Linked DNA regions of Homo sapiens. The protein of the gene in region 1 purifies or fractionates together with the protein of each later gene. This does not show direct contact. Each region holds a gene or a part of one and is shown in the gene's direction. Other genes may lie near its edges.

Region 1 (4,684 bases):
AATCCCTGCCTGGTGAAGCTCGTGTGCTAAGGAATCAATCATTCTGTTTTTTTTTTTTTTCTTGAGACAGGGTCTCACTCTGTCGCCCAAGCTGGAGTGCAGTAGCACGATGTCGGCTCACTGCAACCTCCACCTCCCAGGTTCAAGTGATCCTCCCACCTTGGCCTCCTGAGTAGCTGGGACTAGAGGTGCGCATCACCACGCCCAGCTAATTTTTGTATTTTTAGTAGAGACGGGGTTGCACTATGTTGGCCAGGCTGGTCTCCAACTCCTGACCTCAAGTGATCCCCCCGCCTCGCCCTCCCAAAGTTCTGGGATTATAGGCGTGAGCCACTGCATCCAGCCCTTTTATTTTTTAAAGAGACATGGGTTCTCGCTATGTTGCCCAGACTAGATTCAAACCCCTGGGCTCCAGGGATCCTCCCACCTCAGCCTCTGGAGTAGCTGGGACTAAAGGCACATGCCGCCGCCCCTGGCTAATACTCATATGCATGTTGCCAGGATTAAAATGAATGAACAAAGGGAAGGACATGCTGGAGCCAACTTATACAGGTTGGGAGGAGCTGTTCAATTTTCAGAAATTTTGCAAACTGGTTGTTAAACAGCTGGTTTAACAACTGGTTTTGTTTGTTTGTTGAGACAGGGTCTCACTCTGTCACCCACAGTGGAGTGCAGTGGCAAGATCAAGGCTCACTGCAGCCTTGACCTCCCAGGCTCATGCAATCCTCCCACCTCAGCCTCCCAAGTAGCTGGAACTACTCGCACACACCACCACGCCCGGCTATTTTTATTATTTGTAGAGACGGGGATCTCACCATATTGCCCAGGCTGGTCTTGAAGTCCTGGACTCAAGCGATCCTTCCACCTCAGCCCCCTAAAGTTAAACAGCTATGGTTAAAAATGAAATGATATAAACTTACTCAAAACTGGTAACTTCCTAATTTTACCACATTCCACTATTCTCTATGCTCTTGAGGTCATTTACCCCCATTTTATCTGTATGGTAAAAATAATACATGATAGTGCACTACTGCATCTCTTTTAAACTCCCTGTTCAGTGACCACAGGTCGGTACCTTGAAATCTAACAAGAAGATTGTACCTAAGCCATGGAAATTGGTAAATGCTAGAAACCAGCCTCCCTTCCCCCCACCCCTCCCCGCCACCACCCCCGCCCCAGCCAGTGGTTAACCATTTACCAGCACACCACTGAGGGCATTTAGAGCCTAGCACATGGTAAACACTATGATAAACGTTTTCATTATTTTTCCGTTTGTCCACTGGGTCAGGATGTATAGTCTTTTTTTGTGTCTGGGATGGAATTTAAAATATTTGAAGATCACAGAATTACAAAAGCCCAGAGAGTGGCTAAGCTACACCTATTTAACCCTCCCAATAATGCTGTTAAGTCTATACTATTGATTATCCCCACTTTCCAGACAGGGAAACTGAAGTTCTGAGGCAGTAAAACTCAGGCAGCGCCATGCATTAGCTGTAGTGCGATCTGAAATTGCAGCCGAGCAGCCTCCGCGCGCTCGCGCACTTCAAGAACGCATTTTCCTTACTGTCACGTTTATGCCCCGAGTGGTAATTTCGCTTCCCGGCACGCGAAAAATGAATGGGCGCCATCTTGCGCGTGGCATCTTGGGAAATGTAGTTTACAGGCTCAATAACAAGCACGGTCCAAGAAGGGAGGGGCGGGGGAGCAAATCGATCTTGGCCTCGGAAGAAAAAGAACAAAGAATCGCTGGCAACTTGCGCGTCGCGTCGCTGCAGCCACGCAGTGCGTGGATTCAGCCGCTTTGGCCGTGCCCGTTGCATGCCGGGAAACGCAGTTCGCGAGCCCCGGATACGTCGACAATAGATGACGGGGCTCACGTTGTACGTTCACATCAGGTCCCGGCCCGCCGGAACCTGGGCGATCCACGATGCCGAGTTTGCCACGCTGCGACAGCCCATAGGCTTGCCCCCCCGGGCATTCGGGTGGACTACGAACACAAACTGAAGCCCTAGGACTTGTCGCCCGTTTGCGCTCTCGCCGAGGCACAGGCTGCTCGCGGACCACCCTGCTCCGAAAACTAAGGTGGGCCCTGGGGCGCGGAGGACAGGAATGCGGGCGGAGGCTATTGAGGCACGCCTGCACTGTCCCGCCTGCGGGGAAAGGAGGGAGGTCCGCCCTGGGCGCCGTAGCTGTGTATGGTTCGGGCGGCTGGCACCGGGTGGGTTCTAGACCCAAGGTTTGTCTGCAGAAGGGGACCAGTAGACGGGGTGGATTCGAGGTGGGGACATGGGACGCAGCGGTCGGAGCCGCCTGGAGGGGTACCCGGTGGTCCCGATGGAGCTATCATCTTTGAGGTATTGATGAGGAGGGACGGGGAGTGTGGTCAGAAGGCTGTTTTGGGAGGTTGGGTGGAGCGTGAGGGTGGGGTGTTACTGGGGAATCAATGGGGGCTAATAAGAATATTTTAGTCGAACTGTTGTTCATTGATTGATTAATGAGGGGATGGCAGAGTAAGCAACTAGAATATAACGAGTGATGGATGGGAAAATGATCCCCCAGGTATTGATGGAGGTATGATATTCAACGGGTTAATGGAAAGTGATGGGGCATCGTAATGGCAAGGATGATGGTGAGGTTGTGGGGGGAATAATAGATGGATGGAGGTCATGATCAAGGGGCCTTGGTGAAAGAAAAGATAATGAGAGGCTGATGGTGTTGTAGTCAGAGTCAGTAGTTGGGCTATGGTGGCATGACCGTCGAGGAATTAGGGGACAGAGTGAGTAAAGAGAGGGCAATAGTAAACTAGGGTTGGGGGGGTTAACTTCTGTTGATACATAGTAGGTGAATAGTAAACTGTTGGAGTGTGATCATCCAGTGATGGATCCATGGAGAGCAGGGTGGACAGTGAGGGGAGAATGGGGAACTGATGTGTGATCAGTTAACGTGTTTGTTAATGAAAGAGTTACAGGGCAGGAGGCTAGTGCTGTGATCTATGAAGGGTCTATTGGAGAAAACTGAGTTAATGGGGGCTGATAAATCAGTAATTGAATGCTTAATGGGGAGCTAATAGACCATGATTCTCCAGGCATTGTTAGAGGTTCATAAGGATGTAGTAATAAAGGGGCCTAATCATCTAAGGGATTAATGGCGAATGGGGTGAAACGAGAGAGATATAGGGAGTGGGAGGTACAATGAAGTAGTATTAGGATAAAGGTGGAAAACAAGGGATTAATGGGGGCTAATAGGACTATATGAATCTAGGGGCAATGGGGACAACTGGGGATACAGTCAGTGAGATTTTAATGGGCATGACATGAGCAGAGAAGGGTTGATAGTGGCAGTTGCAGGGTTTAATGTGTGGAGTGTGGGTGACAGTGATGGGAGGTGGACAGGTTCACAAGTGGGCCATCTATGGGATGAATGTTGGGTTTATGGGGTCTTTTGTGGGAACTGTGGGGTAAGTGATGGGGGCGAGGAGGGTCTGTGTGATAAGCAGTGGAGCCTGAGAGTTCAGTGATTGGGTCCTTCAGGCCCTATAAGGTCAGTGGGGTCAGTGCCAGGGCTTCAGTCAGCCCATCTTCTGTGTGAGCTGTCATGTGGGTCAGATGAGCCCAGTTTAGTTTGTGTGGTTCTCTCCGCCCTACAGAGGTAGGTGGTAGCCCATTCATCTGGTTACTGATACTGGCCGGCATCAGTGGACTGTCGGCAGGTCCTTGAGCAACTGGTGTGTGAAATGGGACGGACGTCAAAGGACAAGCGGGATGTCTACTACCGCCTGGCCAAGGAGAATGGCTGGCGTGCTCGCAGCGCCTTCAAACTGCTACAACTGGATAAGGAATTCCAACTCTTCCAAGGTCCCTGACTGGTGGGCAGGTCACTGGGCGGTGAGGTGGGCACAGGAGGTAAACAAGTAGGCTGGGTCTGCAGAGCTCCCTGTGGTAGGTGGGCTGACTCAGAGGGTCTCTGGGGCAGGGAGACAGGCAGGAAGATAGGCAGAATACCGGAGAGGAGTTGGGCACCTGGGCAATGGAGATATGTGGGTGCTCCCCAGGGGAGAGGGGTGAATTTTGCAAGGGTCTCCAGGTTGGAGAAGTGGGTGCAGCTGATCAGGATGCTTTCACTATGTATGCCCAGGCGTGACACGGGCAGTTGACCTGTGTGCAGCCCCAGGCAGCTGGAGCCAGGTGCTGAGCCAGAAGATCGGGTAAGTGTGGGGGTCCCAGATGGGAGACCCAGGAGGGCCGGCTGGGTGGGAGGGGCCCGGGAGCGAAACTAGGCTGATGTGGGCCATGTTGTCCACAGGGGCCAAGGGTCCGGCCACGTGGTGGCTGTGGACCTGCAGGCTATGGCTCCACTACCAGGTGTGGTACAGATCCAGGGGGACATCACCCAGGTAAGAGCATGGCTGAGGGTGTTGGGGTATATCCTGGGTGAAGGCCCTTACCTGGGGTCTATGCAGAGTGGAAGAGAAACAGAGAGGTGATAGAAACAGAGAGAGAAAGAGAGTGAGAGAGTAACCATGGAGAAACAGTCAGCAGGTCATCATTGCACAGACACAGCAGAAAATGATGATGCTGGGTCCCCAGAGGTGGAGCCCAGTCTTAGAGAGGCAAAGCCTGGGAATTTGGCTGACCCAGGGGCTGTGGGCCAGGACCATGGGCAGGCGGGATCTGAGGGCAGCAGT
Region 2 (4,093 bases), on another chromosome or scaffold:
GTATATAGAGAATTGATAAATATCTGTGTCCACAAAGGTAGATGGTAGAAAGGACTAGATCATGAAAGGGTTTGGATTTTATTTTGAGGTAAGGAGAGCCTTTGAAGATTGTAACATAGAGAGGCTGGGAACCCCCATGATGAAATCTGATTTAGAAATATTCCAGAAAATGGATTGCAAGCTCAGCAAGAGAAGAAAAATATCAATTTGGAGACTATTAGAGTAGTCTAGAGCCTGAATTAATCCAGTGGTAAAAGGAAAAGGGGACAAATATGAAAGGTATTAGGAGATAGGATATTAGGGCTTGAGAGAAAAGAGTAAATTAAAGACCCACAGGTTTCTGGCTTGGAAGCCTAAGAGTTGTAATGGTGCTCTCACGAAGACAGGAGATACAGGAAGGGCAGGTTTTGGAAAATTATGCATTACTCCAAATATTATTATTCCTGTCTTTCTGTGCAAGCATATTAAATACTTGTTTAGAAAAGTAGATTTGTTGCTTTTTTTCTAACCATAGAAGTAAAACAGGACACAAAAAGGTAGAATAGTAGTTGCATCTTTATACAGGATGAGTCAGCACATAAGGTGAAAATTGTGAATGGTTAAAATTACCCTTGATGATCCTTCATATCACTTATAAATGTCAGTACAGTATACATGATTTTGTGTATACTAGCCTGTATAATATATGTGATATCTACAGTATGTAATAATACTTTGTAGGCAGTGAGCACAGTTAAGACATAGGCAAAGCCCACATGGTTTTGGGCACAAACATGCAACATAAGTTGATGATAGGAGCGAGGGCAGGGAGTGGCAGGAGATGGGGCAGAAAATTAGATTGAGACTAGATTGTGGAGGGTATTGGGTGTGACACCGAGTACTTGGGCTTTAGTCGGAAGGCATAAAAGAGTCATAGTTCAGTGTATTGATCCAACTGGGAAGTAACATTTATTGAGCATCTTCCATATTGCATTTAAATTTCACCACAACTCAGAATTATTTTACAGAAGAGGAAATCTCTGAGGGACAATATGTACATTTAAGGAAATAGTGGGTGAATAAATATAACTGTCCATGTTATATATTTTAAAATATATAAAAAACACTGTCCATGTAGTATATTTTTTCTTGTTCTGTTTTAAAAAACTAGTTGAAATTGCCTAAGTTAAATGTGAAAATGATGTGACTCTAAAATATATATATATAATTTTTAAAATTTAATCTGAGGTTTTAGAGATAGCCATTTATTAAATACCTTTGTTAAATGAGTGTTTCCACCCATAAAAGATGTAGGTGTTGTTTGAGAATTTCATTGTATTTTGTGTTTTCTCTACAATGCATTCTAGTTATTCTTTTACTTCAAATTCTAATGGCTATGGTAGATTCCTTCATGAGTATTTGTTTAGCATTAGAGGCATACTTCAGAAATGTTGTGGGAGTGGTTCCAGACTACCACAATAAAGTGAATATCACAAAGCTGTCAGATGAATTTTTTGGTTTTCCAGTGCATACAGAAGTTATGTTTACACTCTACTGTAGTCTGCTAAGTGCGCAATAGCATTACCATCAGCAGTAAGGCTGTTCTGCTTTCTTATCATTCATCCGTTCACAGAAATGGGCTTTTAATTTTCTTCAGGAACTTTTCCTTTGCATTCACAGCTTGGCTATTTGGCACAAGAGGTCTAGCTTTTGGCCTGTCTTAGCTTTAGCCATGCTTTTTTCACTAAGCTTAATCATTTCTAGTTTTCATCTAAAGTAACAGACATGGGAGGCCTCCTTTCACCTGAGCACTTAGAGGCCATTACAGGGTTATTAATTGGCCTAATTTCAGTATTGTGTCTCAAAGAATAGGTAGGTCTGAGGAGAGGGAAAGAGACCAATCAGGAATGGCCTTCATGAACTGCTTCATCTTATATTTGTGCAGTTTGTGGTGCCCCAAAACAGTTACAATAGTAACACCAAAGAGATCACCGTAACAGAACAGATCACAGATCACCATAATAGATTAATAATGAAAACATTTGAAATAGTGGAAGAATTGGCAAAGTGTGACGCAGAGACATGAAGTGAGCACATGCTGTTGGAAAGTGGCACTGATAGTCTTGCTGTATGCGGTGTTGCAACAAACCTTCAATTTGTAAAAAATGAAATATCTATGGAGTACAATAAAATGAGGTAAGCCTGTGTATTGCTTTTTCCTTGTGTTTCTCAAAGAAAACTATTTTGTCTTGCAGGACCTTATTTAATGAACTGAGGATTGTTGTTGAACACATAATAATGAAACCTGCTTGCCCACTGTTTGTGAGAAGACTTTGTCTCCAGAGCATTGCCTTTATAAGCAGATTGGCACCAACAGTTCCATAGTTTAACATCTAGTTAAGCTACAAATATAGTATAAGCATTATTAGCAGCTGGTACTTCTGCTAGGGGTTGTAAATTCCAGGTGTTACACTGACCTCAATCCAATTTACATAATTTACATAAATGCATCTCGGTGGAAAAATAATCATTTTCTTGGCATGTTAAATCAAGCTTAAAAAGTTTTGAGAAAATTTTACTGCGCTGTGTTGCTAATGGTTAAAGAAGTCTGTATCTAGTGATAAATATACCAGTTTTTTTAAAAAGATGCTGTTGTGCCTATATCATGAAGTACATTAATTTCTCATGTAAAAAAAATAGCTCTAAAATTTGTTTCAACCTAATTGGTAACCTGAGTTTATATCTGGCATGAATTCATTATGGTGATACACATATGTGAATTCAGTACATTTTGAGACAGTATTCTACCATTCAGTAATTTTGGTTAATGATTTTAACACTTCTCAGTGTATTTAATTTCAAATTGTTTTTTTAATTGGTTTTATGCTGCTTTGTTAGGACAGATGTGTTTTGAATGTACCATTATAAGAAGAATTCTATGTATCTTAAACTATGATCTTCTAAAATTTTATTTCCGTAAGTACTTCTGTGGCCTTGAGTATTTTTTAAAAGGCTCAACTGTAAGCCTCTTAGCCAGTTGGATAAATATTTGGGGTCACCTAGCCATTGAAAGCAGAAAGCAGTAGTGACACAGCTTTCCCTTCAAAGAGCCATTGAGAAACATTTCTCAAACAGGAAATCCTTCTTTTACTAATGTGGACATATAGATTATTCGTATTATAGTTTGTAGAACTACCTAGTTCAGAATCTTGACTGCCAGTTTTCTTGGTTTCTTAGGCTTGAATTTTCATAGACAATTGCAACAGTTTAGATGCCTTTTGAAAGGAATGTAATGAAGATTCAGCATCTGACTATATGTGTGTCTATCCTGAAATAATAATGGAGAGTATACTGTAGATTACATGTTTACCCATCAAATCTGACTTAAAAGGTTAAATGGAAGGTTTTATAGGTAAGGTAATTGATTGGGAATGGGGTAGGGGGAGGAGTTGTGGGGGAATAATGTGCATTTCAGTCTCAACGCATAGATAAATTTAGGGGAATTGGATGTATTATTCAACTTTGATTTGGGTTGTAAAATGTGTTAAATCCTGTTCATTGAACTCCCATCAACTCTTATAAAATTCATGCTGATCTTCATTACCGTTGCATGATTGGAAATGTTTAAAACATTGTACAGTTTTAGTATAGAGAAATGTAATGGTTTTTGTGACCAGTTTCTGTCTGCATGTAATTTGGATTTCTCAAATACATTCATTAGTAATTTATCAGTAACATTAGTTTTATTTTTGTTCATCTCCTTATCTATAAAAAGGGGATATTCTTAGGATAAATACATGAAAAATTATACTTGATAGCTTAACTATAATCAGCTATTTTTGTATTTTTGTAATATTTGTCCACTAAGCTGGAGAAGCAGCCTCATACAGTTGATTTTGTGTATGTGGCTAGTCTTATTGTCACTATGTAAGTAATCCAATGGTTTTAGAAACTAAACTTTCTAGAGCAATAAAATGACTATAATGTTAAGTAAACATAATGTTGATTTCTAATTATGTTTTAAAAAATGAAGTCTTGAATTATATCAAGAAATTTTGGCAGCTGAAGTCATGTTTATTTTGAAGCTGTTAGTTTTTTCCTATAATTTAAAAAG
Region 3 (4,279 bases), on another chromosome or scaffold:
AGTGCTGGGATTACAGGCGTGAGCCACCGTGCCCCGCCCACTTTTCTTAATACAGATGCAATTATGATGGGGTTACATCCCAATAAGCCTGTCATAAGTCAGAAATGCATTTAAGGCCAGGCTTATGTCTGTAATCCTAGCATTTTGGGAGGCCAAGGTGGGAGAATCACTTGAGCCCAGGAGTTCCAGACCAGCCTGGGCAAAATGGGGAGACCCTGTCTCTACAAAAAAAAAAAAAAAAGAAAAGAAAATTAGCAAGGCATGGTGGAATGCACTTGTGGTCCCAGCTACTTGGGAGGCTGAGGCAGGAGGATCACTTGAGCCTGGAAGATTGAGGCTGCAGTGAGCCATGATCATACCATTGTACTATCCAGCCTGGGTGATAGACTGAGACTGGGTGATGGACTGTATCTGAAAAAAAGAAAAAGAAAAAGAAAATGGGCCAGGCGTGGTGGCTCACACCTGTAATCCCGGCACTCTGGGAGGCCTAGGCAGGAGGATTGCTTGAACCTTGGAGTTTGTAACCAAACCGCGCAACATGGCAAAACCCCATCTCTACATTAAAAGAAAATTCATTTAATACACTTAACCTACCAAACATCATAGCTTACCCTAGCATACTTTAAACATGCTCAGAACAGGTATTAAACTACAGTTAAGCAAAATCATCTAACACAAAGCCATTTTATAACAGAGTGCTGAATGTCTCATGTAATTTATTCAATACTGTACTGAAAGAAACAAAATGGCTGTATGGGTACTTAAAGTACGGTTTCTATTGAATGTATATTGCATTTGTGCCATCATGAAGTTGAAAAGTTGTAAGTCAAGGACTGTCTCTACTCAAGTGTGTTAACTGCTTCAGTTGCCTTATGGAAATAGTGTTCCAATATAAAACAGAATGCTATAAAATAGCTTTCTTCCCTGGCCAGTGACAGCGTGTCACTCATTCGTGACCTGAGAATTGAGGCACACTAGGGGACTGCTCAAGGGAGGTAAAAATGCAGTGAACTCCAGCATATCGGTCAGTGCTTAGGCAGAATGAGCTGCATCTCAGGGTTTCTTTACAGGCTGCAAGAAGTGAAAGTCATGGCTGACCGCATCATTGGCATGCGGACTCAACTGGTCTCCAACCTCAAGAAGGAGGGTTCCACCCACAATTGGCAACACATCACCGACCAAATTGGCATGTTCTGTTTCACAGGGCTAAAGCCTGAACAGGTGAGTGATTCTGATTTCTCTGCAGCAGACCAGCTGATCAGTCTTTGCAAACCCGAAGGATTACTTTTTTTTCTTTTTTCTTTTTTATTTAATGTTTTCGGGTTTTTTGTTTTGTTTTGTTTTGTTTTGTTTTGTTTTTGTTTTTGTTTTTGTTTTGAGACAGTCTCGCTCTGAAACCCAGGCTGGAGTGCAGTGGTGCAATCTCAGCTCACTGCAACCTCCACCTCCCAGGGCTTAAGTGATCCTCCTGCCTCAGCCTCCCGAGCAGCTGGGACTAGAAGTGAGTGCCACCACACCTGGCTAATTTTTGTATTTTTTGTGGAGACATAGTTTCGCCATGTTGCCCGGGCTTGTCTTGAACTCCTGGACTCAAGCGATCCGCCTGCCTTGGTCTCCCAAACTACTGGGATTACAGGTGTGAGCCACTGAGCCCAGCCCCAGAAGGATTCTTCATAGATCACCCACCTGTTCAAAATTACCCTAAAAACAGTTAAAACAGTTATTTTGGAGCCCTTTTAGGTAAAAGTATTGTAATACTTTTTAGCATTTATTTTGCTTTTTTTTTTTAGTTGTTTACCTCTCTGTATCCCCCATGAACTCACAAACTTCTAAAGAGCAGAGCTTGTTTTGATCATGTTCATAATCACTGTTGCTTCTCCCAAGAGAGCAACAGGAGAAATAGCTGTTTCATAATTGAATCCTGGCTCTGCTGAATCTAAAGGTGTCTTTTTCCCCATCTGTTTATGCATCAGAATTCATCATCCTACTTTAAAGTAGCTTTTTTTTTTTTCTTTTTTTGAGATGGAGTCTCACTGTGTCGCCCAGGCTGGAGTGCATTGGCGCAATCTCGGCTCACTGCAGCCTCTGCCTCCCAGGTTCCAGGTTCCAGGTTCCAGCTATTCTCCTGCCTTAGCCTCCTGAATAGCTGGGATTACAAGTGTGAGCCACCGCCCCAGCCTTAAAGTAGCTTTTTATTCTTATTTTATTCCAAGCTAACAGCAAATTCTGGGAACAGGTTTTAAGCGAGGAAATAGAGCGTTGGTAAGTTGGCTACTGTGCCATGTCAGGCCGGGGAGAATCCCCTGTACCGGGAAGAGGTACCCAAGTTCTTTCCTCTCTGCAGGTGGAGCGGCTGATCAAGGAGTTCTCCATCTACATGACAAAAGATGGCCGCATCTCTGTGGCAGGGGTCACCTCCAGCAACGTGGGCTACCTTGCCCATGCCATTCACCAGGTCACCAAGTAATGTCCCTGGTGCGAGGAAACAGAGACAACCTTTCTGTCTTCAGCCTCTGCTATTGAGAGCTTCACACAGACAATGAGAGAGGGTGGATGGTGGTGAGTGGATCATTTCTTTCAGCCACAGTGTGTAACACTCAGCATTTGAATGTTTCTCAGAAAAGAACATGTAGTGACACAGGGCAGAGGCATCCATGGCTGGCGTCTGGAATATTAAACCAAACTCTCCCCGGTCCTTTTTTCTCCAACTTTTCTCAAAGAGTTTACATGTGCAAGAAAGTCATCGCACCAAAAAACCTGTCAATTATGCCATTGCAATATTTCAGAAGCTTTAACTGAAGTGTCAGGTTCCTCGTGAGAAACAGCACACGTTAGAGGCTTTGAGAGAAGGCCTAGTTCTGTCATGAGTAGTCGGCCTCGTGTCTGTCCTCCCATCTTGGAACAACCTTATCAACAGGCCGCACTGCAGAAATGATGTTTTATGAAAACCAATGAGGCTGCTGCCACTCCAGCAAGGGAAATAATGCAGTTTCCTGTCTTATTTAAGAAAAAGAGAAGGCTCTCTTTTCTCCCTTGTCATTGCCGTTCTTTTCCTTACACGCAAAGATTTTTTAACTATTGCAGATTTTCATCCCATTCTACTGCTTGATTGACCATCAACTCCATCCTATCGAGATTTATTTAAGAATGAAGAACATAATTTTCTGCTGATGCTGTACCCTCACCCTTTTCAGCAAAGAATAGTGGAGAGTAGGAAACTGTACTTTATCTCGGCATCCTCTTGAATGATAGTGCAAGTTTCTCCAGTTGGGATGTTGTCTCTGCCCGGTTGGACCTCCTCCCTTTGTTGAATGTGGTGTGCAGCCTCTCATCTCACACTGTGAGTCCAGCGGCGCAGGGTGGTACCAGGAAAGAGGATATTCTAGGCTTTGCGTGCTGCTAGCTGGGTTCAGGCTTCACCCACTGGAAAGAACCACCATCTGCTCTAACCATGTAGACTTATTGCGGCCTGGTTTCTCTGTTACAATAAAATTACTGTAGACCCAACTACTGTCTACTAAGTTATCTTTTTTCTTTAATGGGAGGAAGGGGTAGGAGTGGGTAAATAAATAAAGGGGTAGGAGTTTGGAATCGTGTAGCTGATCATAAGCCAGTAGATGTATCCACTATTCCAAATATTGGCTGAAGATTCGTCGTTTTCTTCATGTTGCCATTCAGTTTGTCCAGTCCGAAGATGCTGAGAATGTGGGTGTAATCCCTTGGACCTTGTGGGGAACAAGTGGAGTCCCATGAAGGATCCTGTGGATATAGGCAAAGGGTAGAAGGGGTGGAGGAGAAGTGACAACTTCAGTGGTCTATAGGAGCCAAGAAGGTAACGTAAATAAAAAAGTGTTGTGAACTGGATTTAAGTTGATCAGTGGTGATCAACCCTCATCCTCAGCATTGAGGAGCAGTAGTGAAGTGACAGGAGCTGTGAGGATGAACGCCCAAGGTGGTAGGTCTTACATTTTTCAAGAAAAATGGAAATCTTGATTTCTATGGTTGATCTGTTGGTGCTTAAAAGTTGGCAACTGGTTCAATTTTTAAAAAATTATTTGGGCCAGGCATGGTGGCTCACGCCTGTAATCCCAGCACTCTGGGAGGCTGAGGTGGGCAGATCACCTGAGGTCAGGAGTTTGAGACCAGCCTGACCAACATGGAGAAACCCTGTCTCTACTAAAAATATAAAATTAGCTGGGCATGGTGGCGCATGCCTGTAATCCCAGTTACTCAGGAGGCTGAGGCAGGAGAATCGCTTGAACCCAGGAGGCGGAGGTTG
Region 4 (4,093 bases), on another chromosome or scaffold:
CACTATCATGAGAACAGCATGGGGGAAACTGCCCCCATGGTCCAGTCACCTCCCACCAGGTCCTACTCTCAACATGTGGGGATTATGGGCATTACAATTCCAGATGAGGTTTGGGCAAGGACACAGCCAAGCCATATCAGAAGTGGACCCTCAAAAGTATATCCTTAATTGATCCTCCAATAAGCAGTGACTAATCTTGTCTGAAGATGACTACTTATGTTTTTAAAAGTGCTCTTGAAATTGCATTTTTTTGCTTTACAGCTATATTGAGGTATAAGTTACTTATAAAAGTTACCCATTTTAATGGCTGGGTGTGGTGGCCCACGACTGTAATCCCAGCACTTTGGGAAGCGGAGGCAGGCGGATCACCTGAGGTCAGGAGTTCAAGACCAGCCTGGCCAACATGGCAAAACCCCATCTCTACTAAAAATGCAAAAATTAGCTGGGCGTGGTGGCTCACACCTGTAATCCCAGCTACTTGGGAGGCTGAGGCAGAATTGTTTGAACCCGGGAGGCGGAGGTTGCAGTGAGCCAAGATTGTGCCACTGCACTCCAGCCTGGGTGACAGAGTGAGACTCCATCTCAAAAAAACAAGTCACCCATTTTAATTAAGTGTAGTGTTCCATGAGTTTTAGTAAATGTATAGAATCATGCATCCACTATAATAGTCAAATTTTAGAATATTTCTATCACTCCCAAAAAATTCCCTTGTACCCATTTATGATCACCCCTGGCCCTAGACAACAATTAATAATCTGCTGCTGCTATTTTCTTTTCTAAGGTTTCATTTAAGTGAAATAAGACAATATATAGTCCTTTGTTGGATCTATCAGTGGGTGCATGTGTGTGTGTCTTGCTTTTTTGCTATAAATAATGCTATTCTGAACATTCACGTAAACTCTTTGGACATATGTTTTCATTTCTCTTGGATAGTTGCCTAGGAAAGAAATTGCTGAGTTGAGGCTCAAGCCTGTAATCCCAGCACTTTGGGAGGCCAAGGCAGGAGGATCACTTGAGTCCAGGAGTTTGAGACCAGCCTAGGCAACATAGCAAGACCTCATCTCTACAAAAAATAAAAATAAGTAAATAATAAAATAAAAAATTAGCCAGGCATGGTGGTGCACACCTTTAGTCTCAGCTACTTAGGAGGCTGAGATGGGAGGATCACTTGGGCCTGGGAGGTCAAGGCTTCAGTGAGCCAACATCCTACCACTGCACTTCAGCCTGGGTGACAGAGCAAGATCCTGTCTCTAAAAGAAGAGTTTGCTGGGTTGTATGTTAAATATATGTTTAAATTTTTAAAGAAACTGCCAAACTATTTTCTAAAGTGGCTGTACCATTTTGCATTACTACCGACAATGTATGAGGGTTGCTCCCCATCATTGCCAATGCTTACTTTATCAGTGATGTCTTAGTGTGTGGTTTTGCTTTGCATTTCTCTAATGACTACTAATGTTGAGCAAATTTCATGTACTCTAACTCTTTGTATATTTTCTTTTGTGAAGTATCATTTGCTCATATTTTATTGGGTTTGTCTTCACATTATTGACTTTTAAGAGTTCTTCTTATATTCTGGATATAGGTACTTTATTAGGTATATGTTTTGCAAATATTTTTCTCCCAATCTATGACTTGCCTTTTCTTCCCCCGACCCCTTTTTTTATTTTGGGTCTTTCTCTGTTACTCAGTGCCACTGAGGCTGGAGCGCAGTGGTATACTCATGGCTCACTTCAGCCTTCAACTCCTGGGCTCAAGCAATTCAATCACCCTAGCCTCCTGAGTAGCTGGGACTACGGGTGTGCGTCACCATACTTGGCTGTTTTTTATTGTTTTTTGTAGAGACTGAGTGGTTGCCCAGGCTGATCTCAAACTCCTGGTCCCAAGCGATCCTCCTGCTTCACCCTCCCAAAGCACTAGGATTACAGCACCCAGCCCCTTTTCATTTTCTTAAAGATATCTTTGATAAACAAAAGTTTTCAATTTTCATGAAGTCCAATGTATCTGTTTTTTTTTTTTTACAATTTATACTTCTCTGTCCTATCAAAAAAGTCTTCTAGCATTGAATTTTATGTTTTATACTTACATAAATACACTAGCTTTCTGTTTATTGCAGTCAAGCTGTATTAGTCGACAGGACCATTTACATTTCAGGACAGATAGGCATGGACCCTTCAAGTGGACAGCTTGTGTCAGGAGGGGTAGCAGAAGAAGCTAAACAAGTAAGTTATTTTCCACATTTAAGGTTCCCTTTTCTACTACCTTTTTAATGTTGAAGAGCATTAAGAATCCACTTGCCTGATTTGTTTTATAGAGATTAACAGATAAATGTTTTTTAAACTACTTACTGCTTGATTTAACATAGTTTTTGATCTAAGAGTTGGAAATTTGATGGATCATGAATCATCTAACAACCAAAAGAGAGATTCCACCTCCTTAACACTAAGGTGACCTTAAACCTGAATTATTGACGTCAGATGACATGTTGCCACTTCCACATGGATTGGGAAATTTTCTTCTCAGGGCCACTGACCTGCCCCTCTTCAAAAAAAAAAAAAAATTACCACCACAGAAGTAAAAAGTCAACATTTTTAAAAATAAGAATGGGGAATATAATTTTAATCCAATAAATATAATTAAACCATAATTTAGGCCAGGCACGATGTGGCTCACACCTGTAATCCTAGCACTTTGGGAGGCCGAGGCTGGCAGATCACTTGAGGTCAGGAGTTCAAGACTAGCCTAGACAACATGGTGAAACCCCATCTCTACTAAAAATACAAAAATTAGTTGGGGGAGGCCAGGCACAATGGCTCACACCTGTAATCCCAGCACTTTGGGAGGCCGAGGCGGGCAGATCACCTGAGGTCAGGAGTTCAAGACCAGCCTGGCCAACATGGTGAAACCCCGTCTCTACTGAAAATACAAAAATTAGCCAGGTGTGGTGGCATGTGCCTGTAGTCCCAGCTACTCGGGAGGCTAAGGCATGAGAATCGTTTGAACCCGGAAGGCGGAGGTTGCAGTGAGCTGAGATTGTGCCACTCCACTCTAGCCTGGGCAACAGAGCAAGAACCCTGTCTCAAAAAAAAAATAGAAAAAAAAAGTAACCCAGTCAGGTGGCACATGCCTGTAGTCCCAGTTACTCAGGAGGCTGATGCAGAAGAATCGCTTAAACCTGGGAGGTGGAAGTTGCAGGAAGCCAAGATCGTGCCACTGCACTCCTGCCTGGGACACAGAGCAAGACACTGTCTCAAAAAATAAAATAAAATAAAACAATAAACTATAATTTACTGCATTTACTGAGTCATATAATGCTGAAAGTTTGTTTTGTTTTGTTTTGTTTCTTGAGACAGCCTTGCTCTGTCGCCCAGGCTGGAGTGCAGTGTCGTGATCTCAGCTCACTGCAACCTCTGTCTTCCAGGTTCAAGCAATTCTCTTGCCTCAGCCTCCCAAGTAACTGGGACTACAGGCACACGCCACCACACCTGGCTTATTTTTTGTATTTTTAGTAGAGACGGGGTTTTACCGTGCTAGCCAGGATGGTCTCGATCTCCTGACCTCATGATCCACCCACCTCAGCCTCCCAAAGTGCTGAGATTACAGGCATGAGCCTCCACACCCGGCCTAGCTGAAAGATTTTTAAAAACCTAAATATCCACTCATAAAGAACTGGTTGAATAAATTATGCTAGATCAATACAACTAAAGTAATGTGGAAAGATCTCCGAGGTAAATTGTTCCATGGTAATAAAACCAAGATGCAGAACAACATGCACAGTATGCTACCATGTGTGCTTGTGTGTTTAAAAATATGTAACATAAGCATTGACTGTACCTAGAAGGATATACAATAAATTAGGAACAGTGGTTACCTCTGAGGAGGGAAACTTGGGAGAGGGAGAGAGGGGTGAGAGATATCTTTACACGGTATATGCTTTTTTAATAGCTTTTGAGTTTTTTTGTTGTTGTTGTTGCCATATCCATGTATTACCTATTTAGAAGATTATTTTAAAAGACACAAGAATATAATGAAATATTGCATTGTGACCAGCAAAGTGGGAAGAGTGAATCCAAAAAAAGATAAATGTTTTTCCAGA
Region 5 (3,500 bases), on another chromosome or scaffold:
AGACATTTTTAGAATTTACCTTTAATAGTGCTGTAACTTTTGTTGAATTAATTTGTTAGTTCATGAAGGACTACTAGTAGAGCAGTTTCATTGTCTTCAAATTGGAAACAGAATTATGCTCTAGATACATCAAGAAACTATAGTCCTAATTGATTATTCACTGAACATTCCCAGTTACAAATTTTGCAGATTATCACACTTGTCCCATAAGTGGTGGGGTGGATGAGTTTGTGGTCTGACCAGTGGTGCCCCTCATCAATGTCTGATCTGACACAGAAGCAGAGTTTAAAATAGTCTTTAGGTTAGCACATTTATTTTTAGAAGACAGTGTTGCTCTACTGAAATTTCCCCAAAGTAAGTTGCTAGTTAAAGCTTTAACTGCAAAGCAAGATCTGTACCTAAAATTCTAAGGGACTAACTTTTCTTAATCCCTTCTTTATTAAAACAGTTTTCCACACAGTTGATAGTTGATACTTTCATTAGACCAACCTTCTTTTCTTTTATAAGACCAATGGGTAAATAGAACTCAGTGTATAAAATTTCACCTTTCACATAGAGCTTTTCTAGAAAAGTGCCTTTTTCTTGAGGCACTGTTTTAGCTCATTGCTGTTTATTTTAGTACTCCTGTGTTTCTTTTATGTCTTAAACTCAGATTTTACTGTGTATTTAATTTTCTGCATATTTTAGTAAAATTTTAACAACTTGAACATGGTAAGTTGGCAAGATTTTCTTTACCCCAAAATGTTGTGCGCATTTTGAGCCATTTAATATTTTTGTACTTTGTTTTCTTTGGAGATAATATAAATACACATATGTACTTTTTTTTCTGTTAGAACTATACTTGTTCGTTGAAGTTTTCCTTAAATTTCAAAATATGACTTTTGCCTTTTCTAATAACAAATAAGAATCGTTACAGAGGTCAGAAAATATCTAAACTCAGCATTAACCATCTTGGCTTCTGTAATATGAATAGACTGTACTTGAGACCGCTGTTCTTTATTGTGGTACCAAGTTTACCCCCAGCCATTACAGCATACTGCTGGAGACAGGCTTTGTATTTGTTAATAGTTACTTTGATGGAAGAGGTGGGAAGAAAACAGAATGAGATTTTGATGTTACTCTTTAACCTTTTTTTTTTTTTTGCCCCCACAGCAAGTTGAAGTCGATTGCCAACAGTGTATGCTCGAAATCCTGGATACTGCAGGGACAGTAAGGATGTTTTCTCTTTTTTTGATAGATTTTAATTTGTGAGCAGGTTTTGTCATCTGAGTAGGTTTTGTCATCCAGATAATTCTGAGTAAAAGTAATCATTCTGATTAAGAAGAAATTCTCTGAACATAGGGATTCTTAAGTATATGAAATCAACTCTGATGTAGTTCATGCTCACATATCACAAAGTTCACCTGTAATAATCTGTGTGTTGGGTTTCTTCCTACATTGAGGTAAGGATTATGCTGTCAGTGATTTTTTAAAATTTATTTTAAATTTAGAGCTTTAGTTAATATTTGTATTTCTATGGGTTTAAATAAGACCTTGTCTCTTGGCACCATAGTCATTAATTTTTATAATTTTTTCTTTTCACTAGCATTTTGACATCTCAAGGGGCTGGTGACAGATACATGTTTTCTGAGGAAGGCAAAAATCTTCCTCAGAAGATTTAGAATTATTTTGAGCCTCCTTTTTCTAATCTTTAAATGAGTATAATGATGTTAGTACATCATAAGGTGTTTGTGATAAGCAAATGAGTTAATAATTATAAATCATTAGGCATAATGTCTGTTACACAGTATGGAATTGTGTATTTGCTTTTATTCTTCTTCATTAATACCATCACCTTTATAATTTTTATTAATAACTGATGGTTTCCAGTTATACTGCCACATAAAATACATACATTAAGCAATCTTTGCTTTTCTTTGTTTATTTTTCTCCATGCACATAGACTTGACACATTAGGCAATTCTTAGCTTTAAAATGGATGGGTTCGTTTTTTGTTTTGCTTAAGAGACGAGGTCTTGCTCTGTCACCTAGGCTAGGGTGTAGTGGTGCAATCATAGTTCACCGCAGTCTCCTGGGCTCAAACAGTCTTCCTGCCTCAGCCTCCTGGGTAGCTAGAATTAAAGGCACGTACCACCACCCCCAGCTAATAAAAAAATTTTTTTTGTAGAGGTGGTTTCGCTGTGTTGCCCAGGCTAATCTCGAACTCCTGACCTCAAGTGTTCTTCCTGGCTCTGCTTCTGAAAGTGCTGGGATTATAGGTGTGAGCCATGGCACCTGGCTGGCATTTTTAAATGTGATAAGTTGTTTAAAATTCAGCACAAAGTTTTCCACTATAATTTTTATAAATGATGGAAACATTTCAGATAGTTCAAAAAAGCATGTAAGCAAATTGGAGTGATTTTATACAACAATATAGTACTAATTATACTGTATTTTTCCATTCTTTTTTGGGAAAATGGCTTAACTCTTATCAGGGACCTTTGCCCTCACAACAAGCTTCTGGTAAAGACCTTCTGAAACTACATTTTCTATCAGCTGAATCAAGCTATCTCTCCCTCTCCCACCCTCCTGCTCTCTAATGTTTTTAGCTTCTGAATCAGCAGAATTCCCCTTTGTTTCCAGAGACCCTAATAGCTAAAATGAATACTTTCTGCTTTTTTTTTTTTTAAATCACATCCACAGTGTACGGGCATTCTTCTTTCTCTGTCCAGATTGTAAGAAGGAAGTTCTCTATCACAGAGATCTTTACTTTGTGCTATCCAATATCGTGTCTGTCTCCCATCTAGCACTCAACACGCTGTGTTATAAGGCCTATTTGCTTGTTTGTGTCCCCAGTACCTTGCATAAAACCTTACAAACAGCTGCATAATCTTGTCTCAAAATCACTCCTTACACTTTGAAGATTTTTGCTTTCTCTCTTTCACATACACTGATTCAATCAGAATTCTTAGTGATTTTACTATCCATATAGAATCTATATGGATATTATAAATGATTTACTACCCTGGCTTGGCCTGTCATTTCCTTGATGTCCATCCTACCTTTAAGGCATTCATACCATGGTTTTACTCTAGGCTATGTGATTACCAATAAGTATAATACCTCTCTAATCTAATTTCCAAGCATCTTATCCTCCATTACTCACTACTTTTTTCTTTATCCATCTCACTTCCTCTTTTTTTTTTTTTTTTGAAACAGGGTCTCTCTCTGTCACCCAGGCTGGAGTGCAGTGGTGTGAACACAGATCACTGCAGCTTCAACCTCCCAGGGTCAAGAAATCCTCCCACCATAACCTCCTGAGGAGCTGGTGCTACTGCAGGTGCATACCACCACACCTAGCTTTTTTTTTTTTTTAATTTTTTGTAGAGACAGGGTCTCACTATATTGTCCAAGCTGGTCTTGAACTGGACTCAAGGGATCCTCCTGTCTTTGGCCTCCCAAAGTGCTGGGATAACAGGTGTGAGCCACTGCACCCAGGCCATCTCATTTCCTTTAGTGCC
Region 6 (3,222 bases), on another chromosome or scaffold:
AAGATTGACATGTAAACAATAATAACAGTGTGTGATGCTTTATCATAATGATTGAAGTTTTGTAGGAGGAGAGAGAAGGTGACATTTGAGCCAACTGTAAAAGAGTGAGAAGACATTTGAAGTGGAATATATTCCAGAATAAGGGGAATAGTAAAAATAAAGGTAGCTGTGTGATCATGGAAAAAACACTGTACTCTAAATCAAAAAGACCAGATTTTTGTTATCTCTCTGCTACTTATCTAACTTGTTAATCAGACAAATTATATAATATTCTTTGAGTTTGTTTTTTAATCTCTATAATAGTTAATATATGCTTTCTTCACAGGGTATTGCAAAGATTAAATGGGATAATACACATGAAGTACTTAGGCTTTTAGTAAATTTGTTTGCCCACACATTAGGGCTAAACATTTTAGCTTTCAGTGCATTTTGTACTCTGGCTCTATTGTTTCTTTTAAACTTTATTTCTCTTTAAGTTTCTTCCTTACCCTGAATTCAGGCATTCTTTGCTTATTGAAGAGAACAGCCTGCCTTTACTTAAATAACTGAAATCTTTTTTAGGTCCATGTATTTGTACAACCAAAATTCTTTCTAATTGTACGTCTCCTCAGCTTTAATGTCATTTCCTCAGTGAAGCCATCAGTATATACAATCTTCCATATTGTATTTTTTCTTCTGTGCATCCATAGTACTTTATACATTGTTTTATCATTGCTTAAGTATATTTTTAAATCTTCCCCATCAGAATTTTTTGAGGGGAGAAGATTGGGTTTTAATCAGCCTGATTTTTAGCACCTACAGTAATCCTGACATGCTCAATAAATGTGTATAAATGAATCACGAAGTCAATATTTTAGGTCCTGTTAATTTACTCTCTGTTTGACTTTGTGTTGTTAAACCTGTCTAGTCCTCAGTTTTCTCATTGCTGAAAGAGAGCATTGGAGCAATCTAGATAATCTCTAGGGACCTTTCTAGCTGTAAAATTCCATAATTAGGTCCATCTGTATTGTACCTTTTTAAGTTTTTCTCCTTACTGGAATGCTTCTTACTGCTTTCATCATATACCTCTTTTTTATTATCTTCTCAAGTTCATTCCATCCATGAGGCCCTCTCAAATGATTAAATATTGTGATTTTTATAGTTGTTATAGCCAGTGTGACTCAATTTGTTATACTGTCTTAAATTCTGTTCTGTTATTTTATATGTCATTTTGTATGTTGTTTCCTCAACTAGCTTGTGAATTCTTAGAAGGTAAAGATCATATTTTATATTTCTGTCCTATCTGTAATCCTTTGCTCATAAAGTATATTAGTTCCTTACAAAATTCGGCTGTTAATTATCTGATTTAGAGATTATTGGTTTATCTGGTGTGTGTATATATATATTTATTATTAGAAATAGGCTATTTCTTGCAGTATCTTTCTCTATGATATTTTATACAGAAGGTTTTATAAATATAGATTATTTTGTTTACTTATAATTTTAAAGGTAAGCTTGACTGCACTCATTTAATTTGCCTCTGGAGTCAGGAGTTTACAATTCTTCCTCTGTATCTATTAATAAGCAGTTTGACTAATATTACTAGAAGCTTTAATCTTTAATTTTGGCATTTGTTTTGCAGATGCTCTACCCATGGTACCCCAGGACCAGAAGGCAACCATATTTCAGATTTACCACTTCTAGACAGTCCCAAGTAAGGTTAATTGATAAGTTATGGGCCTCCAAAGCTAAGTTGCTGCTTAGCATTGAAAACATTAAGGCTGAGTGCAGTGGCTCATGCCTATAATCCCAGCACTCTGGGAGACTGAGGCGGGTGGATCATCTGAGGTCAGGAGTTCAAGACCAGCCTAGCCAACATGGCAAAACCCTGTCTTTACTAAAAATACAAAACTTAGCTGGGCATGGTGGCGCATGCCTGTGATGCCAGCTACTCATGAAGCTAGGACAGGAGAATCGTTTGAACCTGGGAGGCAGAGATTGCATTGAGCCGCGATCATGCCACTGTACTCCAGCCGGGGCGACACAGTGAGACTCTGTCTCAAAAAAAAAAAAAAAAAAAGAGAATAAGAGAATGTTAAGAAATTGGGAATAGTATGGTATTGAGTAGAATGTATTACTTGTATCCTCTCCGTACTGTAGTTTGAGTTACCTTTCTGTTCAGTTATGTTGTTTCTGCTCCCTCCCCATTTCCTGGTACTTTCCAAAATTTTCTCTCTAATACTGGTCCAAATAAAACATTAGTTCTTCTGTTTTTCTGTTTCTCACCTCATCATTCTGTAATCTCTGCGAAAGCTTCCAGGTTCGCTCATCGTAGGTCACTGGAAAAAATTGTAGCATTGCTAAAGAGTATTTCAGAGAAAATTTTGCATGCAAAAATTTAGGAAGATGAGTGAAACTCATCATTCTGTAATCTCTGTGAAAGCTTCCAGGTTCGTTCATTGTAGGTCACTGGAAAGAATTGTAGCATTGCTAAAAAGTATTTCAGAGAAAATTTTGCATGCAAAAATTTAGGAAGATGAATGAAACTCATTATTATTATTCTTTCAGTCCCTGGCTATCTTCTTCAGTGACTGCTCCATCCATGGTAGCCCCAGTCACTTTTGCATCTATTGTAGAAGAAGAACTACAACAAGAAGCAGCTCTTATTAGAAGTCGAGAAAAACCGTTGGCTCTGATTCAGGTAAATAACATACTTAGTAGGGTTTAATTTAGAGAAGAACTACATTTCCTACTTAGGTTTTAAGAAAATCGTGTTTGTTTGTTTTGGACAGGTGCTTGTATCTATGAAATTAAAATGTAAATGCCAGGTAAAATTAAACTGAGGCATCTAGCAGTGTATGTATTAGTTGTAGATATTCAGGGCAATTAATTTATGACTAATAAATTATGATAAAGCTTATATTTTTGCTTTGGTGATACTTTGGATTATTTTAGTTTTTTTAAAATGACCAGTAGAGAATTTGGCAGTATTCTCTAGTGCTGCACTTGGCTTCTGTATCAGTAAGAATTCTAAGATTGTAAGCAACAGAAGCCCACTCTGGCTAACTTAAGGAAAAGATAATTTATTTGAGGGATATTAAGATTCCATAGACTTAGCTGAAAGACCAGACAGCCAGGCTTGGAAACAGAAAAGACGCATAGTAGCACTGGAAAGCTCAGAAGCAAGATTTAGAAGACTTGTACAACAACAGAAAGTATCTCACAGAATAAAGCTATTGGAAT
Region 7 (3,910 bases), on another chromosome or scaffold:
CTGTCCGTACAATTACCAAGTTGTGTTGATTGTTCCTTTGTATTATTTCTTAAATATCTTCCTTCCTTTTCTGCTGCTGTTATTCTAAACTGACCTTATTGCTTCTAGGATCTCTGCTCCCAGCCATTTTGTGTGCATTACCACCATTCCTCAGATAAAACTTTGCACACGTCAACCCGCTATTCAAAAACATCCATTGTTTTCTCACTTTATAAAGTGAAAGCCAGCTTACTTAGCTAGTCGTTGCCAGCTGTAAAGTCTGGTGATTTTGGATTATGTTCTTATTCCCTGATAATGTATTGGGTATTTAAGTAGAATTATAAATTTGTTTTTTAATTTAACATTTATTGAACATCTAGTATGTGCCAGGACTGAGGATACTGAATAGAAGATGATGATCTTTATCTTTGAAGTCTTATAGTCTGTTGTTACACAGAGACACAGTCTAGCTCTCTAAACAGTTATAACCTAAGGCAGACATATTGTCTTGGGCAAACCTGGAAGTCATATGCATAAAAACAAAGACAAAAGAATAAAAATGTTTGACCTTTCCAAAGAGATAAGCCTGTTTTAGGAGTGAAAAGAACAGGATATTTCTGTCTGACTCACAAAGCATTTTTGAGAGTACTCCTAGAGGAGATAGAATTCCAAGTTTAAAAAAAGTTTGATCTGGTTCATGGGAATGTATTTTATTTTATGTATGTATGTATGTATTTTGAGACAGAGACTCACTCTGTTGCCCCGGCTGGAGTACAGCGGCATGATCTTGGCTCACTGCAACCTCTGTCCTGGGTTCAAGTGATTCTCATGTCTTAGCCTCCTGAGTAGCTAGGATCACAGGTGTGTGCCAACACACCTGGCTAATTTTTGTATTTTTATTAGAGATGGGGTTTTGCCATGTTGGCCAGGCTGGTCTCAAACTCCTGGCCTCAAGCAATTCACCTGCCTCGGCCTCCCAAAGTGCTCGAATTACAGGTGTGAGCCACTGTGCCTGGCCAGGAATGTATTTTATTTTATTTTAATATTATTGTTTTATTTTATTTTATACTTTTTTAGACGGAGTCTCGCTCTGTTGCCCAGGCTGGAGTGCAATGATACAGTCTTGGCTCACTGCAACCTCAGCCTCCTGAGTAGCTGAAATTTATAGGCATGTACTACCCCTCTTGGGGGATTACAGGCATGAGCCACAGCGCCCAGCCAGGAATGTATTTTTTTGTTTGTTTGTTTGTTTGTTTTTTCTTTTTATTTATTTATTTATTTATTTTTATTGATCATTCTTGGGTGTTTCTCACAGAGGGGGATTTGGCAGGGTCATAGGACAATAGTAGAGGGAGGGTCAGCAGATAAACAAGTGAACAAAGGTCTCTGGTTTTCCTAGGCAGAGGACCCTGCGGCCTTCCGCAGTGTTTGTGTCCCTGGGTACTTGAGATTAGGGAGTGGTGATGACTCTTAACGAGCATGCTGCCTTCAAGCATCTGTTTAACAAAGCACATCTTGCACCGCCCTTAATCCATTTAACCCTGAGTGGACACAGCACATGTTTCAGAGAGCACAGGGTTGGGGGTAAGGTCACTGATCAACAGGCTCACAAGGCAGAAGAATTTTTCTTAGTACAGAACAAAATGAAAAGTCTCCCGTGTCTACTTCTTTCTACACAGACACGGCAACCATCCGATTTCTCAATCTTTTCCCCACCTTTCCCGCCCTTCTATTCCACAAAGCCGCCATTGTCATCTTGGCCCGTTCTCAATGAGCTGTTGGGCACACCTCCCAGACGGGGTGGTGGCCAGGCAGAGGTGCTCCTCACATCCCAGACGGGGCGGCGGGGCAGAGGCGCCCCTCACCTCCCAGACGGGGCGGCTGGCCAGGCGGGGGGCTGACCCCCCACCTCCCTCCCGGACGGGGCGGCTGGCCGGGCGGGGGGCTCACACCCCCACCTCCCTCCCGGACGGGGCGGCTGGCCGGGCCGGGGGCTGAACCCCCCACCTCCCTCCCGGACGGGGCGGCTGGCCGGGCAGAGGGGCTCCTCACTTCCCAGTAGGGGCGGCCGGGCAGAGGGGCCCCTCACCTCCCGGACGGGGCGGCTGGCCGGGCTGGGGGCTGACTCCCCCCACCTCCCTCCCGGACGGGGCGGCTGGCCGGGCGGGGGGCTGACCCCCCCACCTCCCTCCCGGACGGGGCGGCTGGCCGGGCAGAGGGGCTCCTCACTTCCCAGTAGGGGCGGCCGGGCAGAGGCGCCCCTCACCTCCCGGACGGGGCGGCTGGCCGGGCTGGGGGCTGACTCCCCAACCTCCCTCCCGGACGGGGCGGCTGGCCGGGCTGGGGGCTGACTCCCCAACCTCCCTCCCGGACGGGGCGGCTGGCCGGGCGGGGGGCTCACACCCCCACCTCCCTCCCGGATGGGGCAGCTGGCCGGGCGGGGGGCTGACCCCCCCACCTCCTTCCCAGATGGGGCGGCTGGCCGGGCAGAGGACCTCCTCACTTCCCAGTAGGGGCGGCCGGGCAGAGGCGCCCCTCACCTCCCGGACGGGGTGGCTGGCCGGGCGGGGGCTGACCCCCCCACCTCCCTCCTGGACGGGGCGGCTGGACAGGAATGTATTTTAAATATTGGTGTGGAATGTCTAGTATTCTCACAGAGTTTCTCCTAATAATTGTCTTTACTTTCCTTGTAGGGTTTGAAGACTGGGATGTATTATTTAAGGACAAGACCAGCGGCTAATCCAATCCAGTTCACTCTAAATAAGGAGAAGCTAAAAGATAAAGAAAAGGTATCAAAAGAGGAAGAAGAGAAGGAGAGGAACACAGCAGCCATGGTGTGCTCTTTGGAGAATAGAGATGAATGTCTGATGTGTGGATCCTGAGGAAAGACTTGGAAGAGACCAGCATGTCTTCAGTAGCCAAACTACTTCTTGAGCATAGATAGGTATAGTGGGTTTGCTTGAGGTGGTAAGGCTTTGCTGGACCCTGTTGCAGGCAAAAGGAGTAATTGATTTAAAGTACTGTTAATGATGATAATGATTTTTTTTTTAAACTCATATATTGGGATTTTCACCAAAATAATGCTTTTGAAAAAAAGAAAAAAAAAACGGATATATTGAGAATCAAAGTAGAAGTTTTAGGAATGCAAAATAAGTCATCTTGCATACAGGGAGTGGTTAAGTAAGGTTTCATCACCCCTTTAGCACTGCTTTTCTGAAGACTTCAGTTTTGTTAAGGAGATTTAGTTTTACTGCTTTGACTGGTGGGTCTCTAGAAGCAAAACTGAGTGATAACTCATGAGAAGTACTGATAGGACCTTTATCTGGATATGGTCCTATAGGTTATTCTGAAATAAAGATAAACATTTCTAAGTGATTGTATGAGATTAATTTTGTCATTTACTTTCATATAAAAGTCAAATTTGAAAAACACATTTTCTGTTCTTTGAGAATTCAGGGAGGAAATTATATGCCTTTTTCTTTTCTTTTCCTTTCTGTAGTAAAATATACCTAATATACAATTTACCATTTTACCCATGTTTAAACATAAAATTCAGTGGCTTAAGCACATTCATAGTGTTATACTACCATCACCACTATTTGTTTCCAGAACTTCATCATCCCAAACAGAAACTCTGTATCAATAAGAACATTAACTCCCCCTTTCCCCTCCAAGTCCCTGGTAACCTCTATTCTACTTTCTGTCTCTATGAATATGCCTCTTCTAGGTACCTCGTATAAATGGAATACATGTCTGGCTTATTTCATTTAGCATAATGTTTTCACAGTTTATCCATGTTATAGCATGTATCCAAATTTCATTCTTTATGTATACCACACTTTTTTTTTTTTTTTTTTGAGACAGAGTCTTGCTCTGTCACCCAGGCTGTACGATCTTGGCTTGGCTCACCACAACGTCTACCTCCTGGGTT

Evidence for each region.
Region 2: the proteins of FTSJ1 (region 1) and TMEM33 purify together in Homo sapiens (co-immunoprecipitation; one large-scale study listed by IntAct). This does not show direct contact.
Region 3: the proteins of FTSJ1 (region 1) and GOT2 purify together in Homo sapiens (co-immunoprecipitation; one large-scale study listed by IntAct). This does not show direct contact.
Region 4: the proteins of FTSJ1 (region 1) and RIDA purify together in Homo sapiens (co-immunoprecipitation; one large-scale study listed by IntAct). This does not show direct contact.
Region 5: the proteins of FTSJ1 (region 1) and RAP1A purify together in Homo sapiens (co-immunoprecipitation; one large-scale study listed by IntAct). This does not show direct contact.
Region 6: the proteins of FTSJ1 (region 1) and IBTK purify together in Homo sapiens (affinity purification with mass spectrometry, with the first as the bait; one large-scale study listed by BioGRID). This does not show direct contact.
Region 7: the proteins of FTSJ1 (region 1) and RRM1 purify together in Homo sapiens (co-immunoprecipitation; one large-scale study listed by IntAct). This does not show direct contact.

Annotation. Positions count from the first base shown.
Region 1 is NC_000023.11:48,474,315-48,478,998, forward strand, and holds the start of FTSJ1 (tRNA (cytidine(32)/guanosine(34)-2'-O)-methyltransferase), read left to right. Parts: upstream 1-1,884; 5' UTR 1,885-2,082; intron 2,083-2,248; exon of another isoform or gene 2,249-2,354; intron 2,355-3,646; 5' UTR 3,647-3,733; coding exon 3,734-3,854; intron 3,855-4,134; coding exon 4,135-4,204; intron 4,205-4,302; coding exon 4,303-4,393; intron 4,394-4,684. UniProt on the Homo sapiens protein: Methylates the 2'-O-ribose of nucleotides at positions 32 and 34 of the tRNA anticodon loop of substrate tRNAs. Requisite for faithful cytoplasmic translation.
Region 2 is NC_000004.12:41,951,836-41,955,928, forward strand, and holds part of TMEM33 (transmembrane protein 33), read left to right. Parts: intron 1-2,234; coding exon 2,235-2,364; 3' UTR 2,365-4,093. UniProt on the Homo sapiens protein: Acts as a regulator of the tubular endoplasmic reticulum (ER) network by modulating intracellular calcium homeostasis. Mechanistically, stimulates PKD2 calcium-dependent activity. Suppresses the RTN3/4-induced formation of the ER tubules.
Region 3 is NC_000016.10:58,706,359-58,710,637, reverse strand, and holds the end of GOT2 (aspartate aminotransferase, mitochondrial isoform 1 precursor), read left to right. Parts: intron 1-1,070; coding exon 1,071-1,221; intron 1,222-2,344; coding exon 2,345-2,467; 3' UTR 2,468-3,507; downstream 3,508-4,279. UniProt on the Homo sapiens protein: Catalyzes the irreversible transamination of the L-tryptophan metabolite L-kynurenine to form kynurenic acid (KA). As a member of the malate-aspartate shuttle, it has a key role in the intracellular NAD(H) redox balance.
Region 4 is NC_000008.11:98,106,772-98,110,864, reverse strand, and holds part of RIDA (2-iminobutanoate/2-iminopropanoate deaminase), read left to right. Parts: intron 1-2,113; coding exon 2,114-2,219; intron 2,220-4,093. UniProt on the Homo sapiens protein: Catalyzes the hydrolytic deamination of enamine/imine intermediates that form during the course of normal metabolism. May facilitate the release of ammonia from these potentially toxic reactive metabolites, reducing their impact on cellular components.
Region 5 is NC_000001.11:111,696,289-111,699,788, forward strand, and holds part of RAP1A (ras-related protein Rap-1A precursor), read left to right. Parts: intron 1-1,152; coding exon 1,153-1,209; intron 1,210-3,500. UniProt on the Homo sapiens protein: Counteracts the mitogenic function of Ras, at least partly because it can interact with Ras GAPs and RAF in a competitive manner. Together with ITGB1BP1, regulates KRIT1 localization to microtubules and membranes.
Region 6 is NC_000006.12:82,171,838-82,175,059, reverse strand, and holds part of IBTK (inhibitor of Bruton tyrosine kinase), read left to right. Parts: intron 1-1,621; coding exon 1,622-1,693; intron 1,694-2,547; coding exon 2,548-2,680; intron 2,681-3,222. UniProt on the Homo sapiens protein: Acts as an inhibitor of BTK tyrosine kinase activity, thereby playing a role in B-cell development. Down-regulates BTK kinase activity, leading to interference with BTK-mediated calcium mobilization and NF-kappa-B-driven transcription.
Region 7 is NC_000011.10:4,135,523-4,139,432, forward strand, and holds the end of RRM1 (ribonucleoside-diphosphate reductase large subunit), read left to right. Parts: intron 1-2,672; coding exon 2,673-2,861; 3' UTR 2,862-3,410; downstream 3,411-3,910. UniProt on the Homo sapiens protein: Provides the precursors necessary for DNA synthesis. Catalyzes the biosynthesis of deoxyribonucleotides from the corresponding ribonucleotides.